Linked DNA regions of Homo sapiens. The protein of the gene in region 1 purifies or fractionates together with the protein of each later gene. This does not show direct contact. Each region holds a gene or a part of one and is shown on either strand. Other genes may lie near its edges. The genes, in order: FAH, KANSL3 and PGM1.

Evidence for each region.
Region 2: the proteins of FAH (region 1) and KANSL3 purify together in Homo sapiens (co-immunoprecipitation; one large-scale study listed by IntAct). This does not show direct contact.
Region 3: the proteins of FAH (region 1) and PGM1 fractionate together in Homo sapiens (co-fractionation; one large-scale study listed by BioGRID). This does not show direct contact.

What each region holds. Positions count from the first base shown.
Region 1 is NC_000015.10:80,173,444-80,177,092, reverse strand, and holds part of FAH (fumarylacetoacetase), read right to left. Parts: intron 2,078-3,649; coding exon 2,002-2,077; intron 1-2,001.
Region 2 is NC_000002.12:96,603,761-96,607,409, reverse strand, and holds part of KANSL3 (KAT8 regulatory NSL complex subunit 3), read left to right. Parts: intron 1-362; coding exon of another isoform or gene 363-440; intron 441-1,872; coding exon of another isoform or gene 1,873-1,898; coding exon 1,899-2,090; intron 2,091-2,546; coding exon 2,547-2,631; intron 2,632-3,029; coding exon 3,030-3,160; intron 3,161-3,649. UniProt on the Homo sapiens protein: Non-catalytic component of the NSL histone acetyltransferase complex, a multiprotein complex that mediates histone H4 acetylation at 'Lys-5'- and 'Lys-8' (H4K5ac and H4K8ac) at transcription start sites and promotes transcription initiation.
Region 3 is NC_000001.11:63,645,293-63,648,941, forward strand, and holds part of PGM1 (phosphoglucomutase-1), read left to right. Parts: intron 1-3,224; coding exon 3,225-3,360; intron 3,361-3,649. UniProt on the Homo sapiens protein: Catalyzes the reversible isomerization of alpha-D-glucose 1-phosphate to alpha-D-glucose 6-phosphate. The mechanism proceeds via the intermediate compound alpha-D-glucose 1,6-bisphosphate.

The DNA.
Region 1 (3,649 bases):
TACTTCACAACGTACTAAACAATATTTACTAAACATCTACTACATGCAAGGTACCGGGCTGTTGCCGTTCCACTTCTGAACAGCACTAATAAGTAGAAAGCTCCTCTGCTCCCTCAAAACCTGGCTTCCTCCCTTGGTCCTAACTTCCCCTCTGAGGTGGCACAGAACAGGTGTGCTCTTCAGCCATGCGAGGTCTGGGTCTGCCAAGGCTGCTCCTCCCCAGACCCTTTCGCCCAGATCCCAACTCAGAACATCAGAACTGCAAATGCAGGACTACATCTCTGGACACTGTGCTTTCTGGATAATCTTGTCCCTTTTCTACCAGTGGCCTCCCCCGGGCGGGCAGGTTCACCTCTAGGCAGCCAGGAATACTGAGGACAAAACCAGATAGAAAGTATACTCCAAGCACGCATTGTGGGTGGCAGGAGGCCAACCTAGAACTTGTGACACACTTGGATTGAGTCCCAGCCCTGCCATTAGCCAGGTAGGTGGCTCGGGGTGAATCCTTTTCCTCTCTGAGCCTCAGCTTCCTGACCTGGAACCTGAAAGAGCGGGCCCAGCACAGCTTCCCAGAGGGCCCTGGGCAGCCAGGAGGCTCTCTGTGACAGCTCTTTCTCCATGGAGCATCCTGCTCCCATGGCGACAGCTCCTGCAGTGTACTGCGCCTCCTGACAGGAACCACCTCATGAAGGGCCGAGACCCTGGAACTGACAGTGAGACAGACATGGCAAAGCCTGGAGTGTACAGACAGAGCAGACAGAAGAAAGAAATGGAGCTGGCCGGGCATGGTGGCTCACGCCTGTAATCCCAGCACTTTGGAAGGCCTAGGTGGGTAGACCACCTAAGGTTAGGAGTTCAAGACCATCCTGACCAACATGAAGAAACCCCATCTCTACTAAAAATACAAAATTAGCCAGGCATGGTGGCGCATGCCTGTAATCCCAGCTACACAGGAGGCTGAGGCAGAAGACTCGCTTGAACCCAGGGGCAGAGGTTGTGGTGAGCCAAGATCGCACCATTGCACTCCAGCCTGGGCAAGAAGAGTGAAACTCCATCTCGGGGGAAAAAAAAAGAAGAAAAGAAAAGAAAAAGGAATGGAATGGAGCTAAAAAGGAGATTTGGCCAGAGTGTGGCTAGGAGGTCTGTGTGTGGCCACCAGGCAAACCCTCCCCATCCGAGGGCCCCCGTTGGGATTGGAAAATGACACCTGACTCTTTCTAGGTACAGACCCTGTCCCAGACCTTTGCATGAATTGACATGTTTGGTCCTCACAACACACCATGAGGTCAACGCCGCTATTATCCCATTTCATAGATGACAAATGAGGACATGGCCAGGTTTGGCAACTTGCCCAAAGTCCCACAGCTGAGCAGCAGAGTCATGGCCTGCAGAGCCAGTCTCTTTATTACCAACGCCCCATTGGGCCTGTTCGCGGAGGCGGGCTGAGCAGCCACAGGGAGATGTGGGCCCTGTCTATGTCAGGGCTGGCCCAGGGTGGGGATCTCGGGTCTGTCTGCAAGACACTCAGGGCTGGCCCATGGTGGGAATCTGGGGTCTTGATGCGCTGGCTCTGTGTGGCCCCAGGGGCTCAGCCAAGCGAACAGACCCACAAGGACATGCTTTCAAACAGGCACTCAATGAAATGTGCCACCCACCACGGAAGTGAGGGTCAGTGGCGATATGTGAGCAGGAGCCAGGCAGCCCCTGGAGAGGCTGGGGAGGGGATTCAAGCAGAAGATGGAAGTCCCGGACTCCATCCTTTCAGCCCTACCACTGAGAGCTCAGTGACAGGGTTAATGCCCTATGGGCCCAGTTAGGTTCCCAGTGAGCACCAGGGTGTCCCCTCCCCTCCCCTCCTCTTTCCTTTAGACGAGCCACACACATCTCCAGGGCTGTAGCACGTGCCCTCACCCTTGCCAAAGCTCAGGAGCCTTCAGGACAAGGCACACAGGCACACATTGCCTCAGAGCTCCTGGCCATGTCAGTCCCCCTACAACATACCTTTCAGGTTAACAGAGAGGTTGATGTCAAATGTGTAGGGCTCGTCATGGCACAGATACGGCAGGGGCCTGGGGTCCTGAGAGGGCAAAGCACAGCACAGAGGTCACTGGCAGGTGGGCTGAGCTCACCCGGCTGGGCCCCCATACCAGCCAGGCCCCCAGCAGCACCTGCTCCCCTAGGCAGAGGGTCTGAGACAGCAGGAGCATTCCCTCTCCAGGGACCCAGCACTGTGTCCCTGGATAGCAGTAGGGGGGATCATACTGTGGGTCTCTAGGAAATGCAGCCAAGGAAGGGGCATCAGCAGGTCAAAGGTCACAGGAGCCAAACCAGAGATGTTCCTGAAAGCCACAGGAGGGGAGAGAAAGGGAAGGTGGGCAGCAGACAGGCCGAGATGGAGAACAAAGCCTGGCCTGTGAGGAAAGGCTGGGCCTGAAAGCGCATTGCAGGGCCCCTGGAAGGCAGAGGGGTCACAACAGAAGTAGACAGCCCTGGCTGGTGCTGGAGCCAGCTAGGGAGGCAGCTTGGATGGCTGGGCCAGAACGCCTGCACTCCGGCCAAAAGCAGTGTTTTCCAAAGCATGGTACATGAGTCACCCACGGGACATGAGATCGTTTTTGGTGATACTAATGGTTATGAAACAGTGTAGCTAGTGATGCCAGTAGGAATATAAAGTTCCCTTCTTAATATATTAAGTTTAAACTGGGAGCCACTCTGAAGGAAAACATTAAGTAAATAATAGTTCAGAGGGGGAATAGTAGTGTTGTACCTAAATGGTGTTGGGGAAGGGCTGGCACAGAGGAAGGCAGGCAAAACCCTGTGATGACCGACCCGGAAGAAGGCAGATGACTGGAGGACAAGCAAAGAGAGGCTGTGGCCTTGCAGCCCTAGGGAGACTAGACAAGGCCGCTGCCAGCTAGAGAGAAAGTCAAGTCCTGGCGACTGAAAATGACCAGGGTGGGCAGGGGGTGCTGTGGTAGGGAGCAGCGAGGAGAGAGCAAGGGATGAGGGTGAAAGCCCCACAGGACTTCACTAGAACTGGCTTGCAAGGAAAGACCTCAGGGTTGTTTGTAGCACAGCAAACATGAGATGACCCCAGAGGCAGAGGAGCATGGGAGAGCAGTGTGGGTGCAGGACCAGCACCGGGTGTTGGTAGAGGCCCCCAGCAAATGCGTGGTGAGATGCTCAAGCGAGGATGTGCAAATGGCTGGGAGCTCAGCCTGGATCCCCACAGGGAGGTCAGAATTGGAGAGGGGCATCGTGAGGACTCAGAGACACTGGAGAACGAGGACAGGTCACATGCCAGAAACCAAGGGGTGAGGGAATGCCAACAAGAGTGAGGGGCCACAGGAAGTCCATGCTGAAGGGGACACAAGGTCATGACACTGACTATCGGGTCACAGGTGACTCTGGCCAGGTGTTGCCAGTGATGGAGTGGGGCAGATTGCAACAGGCTGAGAAGGGAGGACTGGAACCAGGGGTCAAGGCCTAGACCCAGTGGTAGACCAAGCGGTGCCGGGAACCAGAGGCTGCAGGGACTCCCTGTTGCTGGGCTCCAAGCTGCATTCTATGAGTTGGGGTCCAGGTGGCGCCATTTGCACAGAACAAGATTTGATGGCCACCTGGGAGGTTGTGCAATGTTGGTACCTGC
Region 2 (3,649 bases), on another chromosome or scaffold:
TGGGGATCTAGGGTGTCATGGGGGAGAGTAGCAGCTTTAGAACCCTGGCTTAGCAGAGCTGATGGGCAAACGGGGAATACTAATAGCGAACATATATGGAGTCCTTGCTGTGTGCCATGCCTTCTTCATGGCACTCGCATTGCTGTAGTTTGTTGAGTTTTGGCATGGCCCCATGAGGCAGATAGTACTATTCAGTTTTAGATGCTTCTACAGACTGACTCCGTGGCAGAGTCAGGTTGCCATGCAGTAATTTCAGAAGGAGCCCCTATTGGCCATTTTCTACAACCTTTTTTCTTATTCCCTCTCTTTTTCTCCCTTCTCTGGCTGGCTGTGATTCTGTAATTCTTTCTGATTCATTCCAGCACAGTTTGCTGCTTTTCTGAAACAAAATATGCTGGTGAGGAAAGCTCTTCCTCCTGGCACCTCCTCCTGTCTCTTTGGTGAGTATTACTCTTTCTTGCCTGCTCGTCCACTACATTCTGCTCCTCAACCCCTTATTTATTTTCCATCTCTGCCTCTCATCTGCCTCAGTTTGGTTTCCTCCTGTTCTTTTCTCTCTCTTTCTTTGTATTCTTTTGTTTTGCTGACCCCTTTTGCTTACTCTGTAGTCTTTGCCCTTTTTCCATTCTTTTGTTTGCTTCTCATGGTGTTTTCTTTTTTGTCTCTTAGTGTGGTTCTTTCTTTCACTACGGTCTTGGCTCTGCTGCTTTTTTGTATGTCTGTGGCATTGCCTGAGTCTCAGTTTCCTTGTGTGTTTTTCTCCCTGCCTCCTGTCCTGTGTTTATCTGGTGGCTACAAGCCTACCAGCCACATATCAGCATAGAACCTGAAACTCCTTTCCCCTACACCCTCCTTCCTACTCTGATTTTAGCCAGTGCATTTGTCCCCTAAGCAATCCTTCTAGCTGGTTATGTCCTGACTGTTGCCTCATGCCAGGACCCCTCCTCCCTCCTCATGTGACTGCTACCTTCCTCCCCACACCAGTCTTTGCTTCCCTGTGCTACAAGAGGACTAGGGTGGACTTCTGGGTTTAAAGAGGAGGGAATCTTTGAGGAAGCTTGAAAGATAACCTAAGAGTCCAAAAAGCTTGGCTGTATACATGATGAGCCTGTTTGATTCAGTGGAAGTGGAAGCCCATGTGTGAACAGATGGCCTTTGTCTGTACTAGTACACATGACCTGGGGACTAGGTTGTGACATGGGCCAGTGTTGCCCTGTTACTTTTGGGTGGGAGCCGTGAGGTTGCCTGGTTGAGGTACTCTCTCTCCTAGTAGCTACTCATAGCCAGCTTTTAGTCCTGGTGACACTCCTCTTCATTGCCTCCATTTGGCAAGTGGATCCTCAACTGTGGGCTCTTAGGGCAGGGTGGGACTCTTGAGAGCCTTTGGAAAACTCTACTTTTTAGAGAGGACTGGATGACCTGCTCCTCCATGAGTTCTCATAGAATGTTTGATGTCTCCAACTGTGTGATGATGTGGGGAGGGCTTCAGACAGGAAGATGATCACATTTTTTGAGTCTGAGAAGGACTGTTTACTCATTCTGTTGAATCCTCTATTTTTGTTGTTGTTGCCATTGGCCTTGGCTAGGCAGGGTCAGGATGTCTTCTGTCTTTTAATTCCTACCAACTCAGGGCCCCTTCTCTTCCGATTCCAGTGCAGGATGAGGGATGAGAAGGGTGCCATCCTCTAAGAAGGGCAAAGTGGGGTCCCCCACGGACAGGGCCTGAGTGAAGTGGTCCTGAAGCATGGGCAGTCTCCTTTGAGGGGTGGCCCTGTACGTAGAGTGGTTATCCTGTGTGTTCTACATTCTACACATGGCTGTGTTGGTGCTGGTATTGACTGAGTGTCTGTTGGGATTTTTTGGATTGTGGAGGATCTCAACTCAGCTCCATGTCTTAGTTCCCATTTCATCAGAACCACCAGAGGAAGGAGAGAAAGAGGATCTTAGGGTTCAGCTGAAGCGACACCATCCCTCGAGTCCCCTTCCTGGCAGTAAGACCTCCAAACGACCGAAGATCAAGGTGTCCCTTATCTCCCAAGGGGACACAGCTGGAGGGCCTTGTGCTCCTTCCCAAGGAAGTGCTCCAGAAGGTGAGTTTCTCTTGGTACGTTAAATGAGAACTGAGCTCTCTCAGGTACACAGCATTGCCCTTTGGTGGCCATTCACCAGCATGTCAGCCTTTGCTTTATTTTGAGAGATGCCCGGAGCAAAGAAGACATGAGTCTGTACATGTGGGTAAAGTTGGCATGAGTCCATCTGAATGAGGACCAGGCAGGCAGAATATGAGAGGAAGCTGTGCCATCGTTCAAAGCATCCTATATTTTGTTCTTTTTTTGTTGGCTTCAATTAAAGGTACAGAATATTTCAGGAAGTTTAGAAAATAGAAGGAAAAAATAACCCCAACTCTCCCTACTCTAGCATAGTTCATCTTTTTTCATTTTCCAGTTTTCGTCCGTAATATCTTGCATTTAGCCTAAGCTGTGGAACCTGGAAACATAGAGGCCAAATAGGACTGACCAGGGGCCTTGGGGTTTTCTGTTTTGAAGCTGCAGGTGGGAAGCCCATCACCATGACACTGGGGCAGGCTTCAGCAGGGGCCAAGGAGCTCACAGGACTTCTCACCACAGCCAAGTGAGTGTTTATTGGACCATCTGTGTCTATTCCTTTTTTCCCTTCCCTCTGTTTCTGGTTTATTTAGTGCTTTGGAAAATGATGGATTCTGGATTCTTGTCAGTTTTGGAAATGTGACTTACTTCTGATTGGGATCTTTGTCTTGCTTTTGAGTCAACCCAGAGTTCACTTTTACTTAAGACTCCAAATCGTCCCCTGGCTTTTGCTATAAGTCCTGTAAGTAAGGACTTTTAGAAGACTAGAGGCCAGGTACAGAAAGTGGGACAAAGAAGCTGAAGGTTTTTGGTGTATGTCTGCTGCTGAAAGCCTTGCTGGGCCCCACTCTGTACCCTGCCAGTGTTGCTAGGGCTTGCTGTCCTGTGACCTTTGGATAACAGAGCTCCTTCCTTTGTCTCCAGGTCCAGTTCTTCTGAAGGTGGAGTCTCAGCCAGCCCAGTCCCTTCAGTGGTCTCCAGCAGCACTGCACCCAGTGCCTTGCACACACTGCAGAGCCGCCTGGTGGCCACATCTCCTGGCAGCTCCCTCCCAGGTATCTTGTGGCCCAGCATTCTCCCCTTCCAACACAGAATTTTTGGTCTGCTGCTTCTGGGTGGTCCTGGGAAAGCATCCCTGGAGCTAAATCCATAGGATGGGCCTCTGGGTCTTAGAGTGATCATAGAGGCTTGACGTGAAGCTGGAATTAGCTTGGGCAGAGGGATTCCTTGGCCTTGAATAAATGCAGTGAGTAAATGTCCTGGTCTGCAAGTGAGTAAATGTTCCAGTCTACAGGTGCTGTATCCTCTACTGTAAGGAGAAATAGCCGATAGGACATATATGTATAGTCAGCCTTTCTTATCCACAGGAGATTGGTTCTAGGACCCTCACCACTACCAAAATCCATGGATGCTCAAGTCCCTTATATGAAATTATGTCATACCGTTGGAATTCTATATCCACAGGTTTCTATCCGTGGTTGTTTGAATCTGCAAATCTGCTGTGAAGCTCACAGATAATTGAGAGCTGACTGTGGTTTTACTTT
Region 3 (3,649 bases), on another chromosome or scaffold:
AAAGAAAAAATCAAATTCCTTGCTTAGGGCAGGAAAAGCCACAAGGAACACTGCCTTCTATGCTTTCAGTCTAGCCAAAAGAGAAAAAAGAAAAAAAAATTAAGGAGAAAAAGAAGGAAGAAAAAAACCCAGTGGGGCACAGACAAATAATTCCAAGCTGTATATGCTGTCATGAATTCCCAATATATTAGGGAAGCTGCCAGAATCTTGCTTCTCAGGATGAACTGTTGCCAAAACATATCATTTGCAAAAGCCGTAAGAGCCAGAGAGCTTTTTGCTCCTTAAAATAGCAGTAAGGGCAAATAAAAGTCTAAAGATAGTAAAATTAGGTAAACATTTTTAAAATATGTTATATAAAGCACTAAAAATATTGCCTACTCTCTAGTTTTGCCTGCATCCGGGTTTTGAGGACTGTTAACTTCTAAAAGTAGTATCCTATTGAAGAGAAAAGTCTTTTGAAAGAAAAAGTCATGTTTTTTTAAGAACCAAAAATAGAAAGAGAAAGTGTTGGAGTAAATTGATTGGTTGATTCATTCACACAGTCTTTCATAATTAGTTATTTACCGTATTCCTTGTGCTATGCTAGTCACCAGACTTAATTACAAGGATAAATAAGAGATGCCCGTAAGAAGCACACAGTTAGTGGGGAGAAAGGCTCACAAACAGATGGTTGAGACTCGAGGAGGCTGATGCCACCCCAGATGTTTTGTGCAGGTTGCTACAGGAGAAGAAAGAGAAGGGAGTTCATGACTGCCTAGGGAAGTTGGGAGCTAGTCTTAAAAAAGAGAGGACATTTGAGCTGGGTCTGAAAAGATGAAGAGAGGAAGGAAAAACACCACGTGCCTCCTGCATACCCAGCATGGTGCTAGATACTCTAACAATTCCAAGAAGAATAAGACCAGCGGGAAGTGCAGTAGGGCAGGCACATAAAGAATTCAACATAGGATAATGTGAGAGCATGATTATAGAGCAATTGTGTACAGTTCTATTCAGAAATCAGAAAATAAGGCTCCATGTAGACTGCTTTCTTTCAGAATAAAGAGTTTAAAGGCAAAAAAATGAGAGTTGTGTTCCATATCAGGCTCTTGGAAAAGGGTGTCCATGCATATAAGCACATCCTCCCGAGAAGCCCATTTTAAAATTTTGTTAAAGATTTTAGCAAGGACCTTAGCAGGAGACAGATGTCTCCTTTAAGAGACATCATTAAGGTTTGTTTAACCAAACCTTAATGGTTAAAGAACAGTGTCTTGGAGTTGCTGGATCCATGAGTAGGTCCAATTTGAAGGCTTTGATCCTTTTTTGCCAAATTGATGTCCAGAAGGATTGTGCCAGCGTCCACTCCCACCAGCTCTTTGGTGGAATCCCGTTTCCCTTTTATTCTCCTGGCACTGGCTGTTCGGATTTTTACACTTGTGGATTTTTACACCTTTTGTCAAGCAAGTAGCAGTTTCTCATTGTGGTTTTAACTTTAATTTTTCTTCTTAAAAATAACACCAGCTTTTTATTATACTAATTGGTTGGGTGTATGTGTCTATGTGTATTGTTTGGCAAATCGCCTATTGATATCCTTGGCCTGTTTTTCTATTGAAATTCTTTTTTCTTATTCATACATAAGAATTTTTTCTATATTGAATGTATTAAACATCTGCCTTAAAATATATCAAATGTGGCCGGGCATGGTGGCTCACGCCTGTAATCCTAGCACTTTGGGAGGCCGAGGCGGATGGATCACCTGAGGTCAGGAGTTCGAGACCAGCCTGGCCAACATGGCGAAACCCTGTCTCTACTAAAACTACAAAAATTAGCTGAGCATGGTGGCGGGCACCTATAATCCCAGCTACTCGGGAGGCTGAGACAGGAGAATCGCTTGAGCCTGGGGGGCAGAGGTTGCAGTGAGCCAAGATCATGCCACTTTACTCCAGCCTGGGCGAAAGAGCGAAACTCCGTCTCAAAAAATAAAATTTTACATATATATATATATATATATATATATATATATATATATATATATATATAGTATTAAACATCTACCTTAAGTGCTATCCACTTTTAAACAACCAGATCTCTTTAATTTTTTAAAGTTTGTCAATGGGCTTTTAATTTTGTCCATAGTAGTTTTACACTATAGAAATGCTGATTTTTAAGTAGATAAATACATCAGTGTTTTCTTTTATGAATACCGAATTTACATTATTTATCACCCCTAAGATTTATATATATAAATATATAAAAAGACATGTATATTAATATAATATATACTAGTATTTAAAAGCTTTCAGGTTTTACATTCGAATTTTTAGTTCAACTGGAATTATTTTTGTTATGGTGTTTTATAGGGAAGAAAACAATTTTTTAAAGCTATTTATCCAGTTATCCAAACGCCATTTAAAAAGTAATCTACTCTTTTCCCACAGCCTTGCAGTGAGACCTTTGTCATACTCAAGCCTCTTGTGTGCTTGGATCTCTTTCCAGATGCACTCTTGTTCTATTAAGCTACCAGACTATTTGAATTATTGAAATTTTGTAATGGTCATGTTCTTCTGCTGTTTGTTCATTTAAGATCTATTGTGTTTTCTCTTCACATTAATACTTTATAACTGATATATCAAATTCCACCTAATTATCTCACTGACATTTTTATTGACTTATGCCTTACATTTCTAAATCACTTTGGGAAGCATCAATTTCTTTTCAGTATCATGTTGCCTACTTAATATGTGATTCCTCCTGTATACCCAAGTCCTCAGTCAGGCAGTGTGACTCTTTTATTTGGGTCTGCACACCTACTGTTGAGTACTGTATTAGTCTGTTCTCACACTGCTATAAAGAACTACCTGAGACTGGGTAATTTATGAAGAAAAGAGGTTTAATTGACTCACAGTTCTGCAGGCTGTACAGGAACCATGGCTGGGAGGCCTCAGGAAATGTACAATCATGGCAGAACAATGAAGAGGCAGCCGGCACCTTCTTCACATGGCTGCAGGAGAGAGAGAGTGAAGGGGGAAGTGCTATATACTTTTAAACAACCAGATCTCATGAGAACTCACTTACTATCACCAGAACAGCAAGGGGGAACTTTGTCCCCCATGATCCAATCACTTCCCATCACGTCCCTCCCTCAACATGAGATTTGGGTGGGGATGCAGAGCCAAACCATATCAAGTACCTTCTCAGGTACTGGGAGAAAGCACGTTTCTTACAGCAGCTTGCTGTCCCCCCTCCAGGTTCTGACCACATCCGTGAGAAAGATGGACTGTGGGCTGTCCTTGCCTGGCTCTCCATCCTAGCCACCCGCAAGCAGAGTGTGGAGGACATTCTCAAAGATCATTGGCAAAAGTATGGCCGGAATTTCTTCACCAGGTGAGCCACAGCCCAGCTGGGGTACAAGGTAAGGTGGGGAAGTGGGCAGAGAGAATTCTTGCGCATCCACAGCCTCTCCTGTCTTAAGTGCTAATAAAACCCTAGGTCATCCAGCCTCTCTCAATTGGAGACTTTAAAAATAATCTGGTCAGGGATGAAATGAAGTCAATTTTTATGTCAGCCATAAAGAGTGAGGCTTTAAAAGTTTAGCTAACATAATCAAAAGAATAAATGCTTTATAAGCATTTTAAATGTGTCCATTGGGTGGACATGATCATAACATTGGATT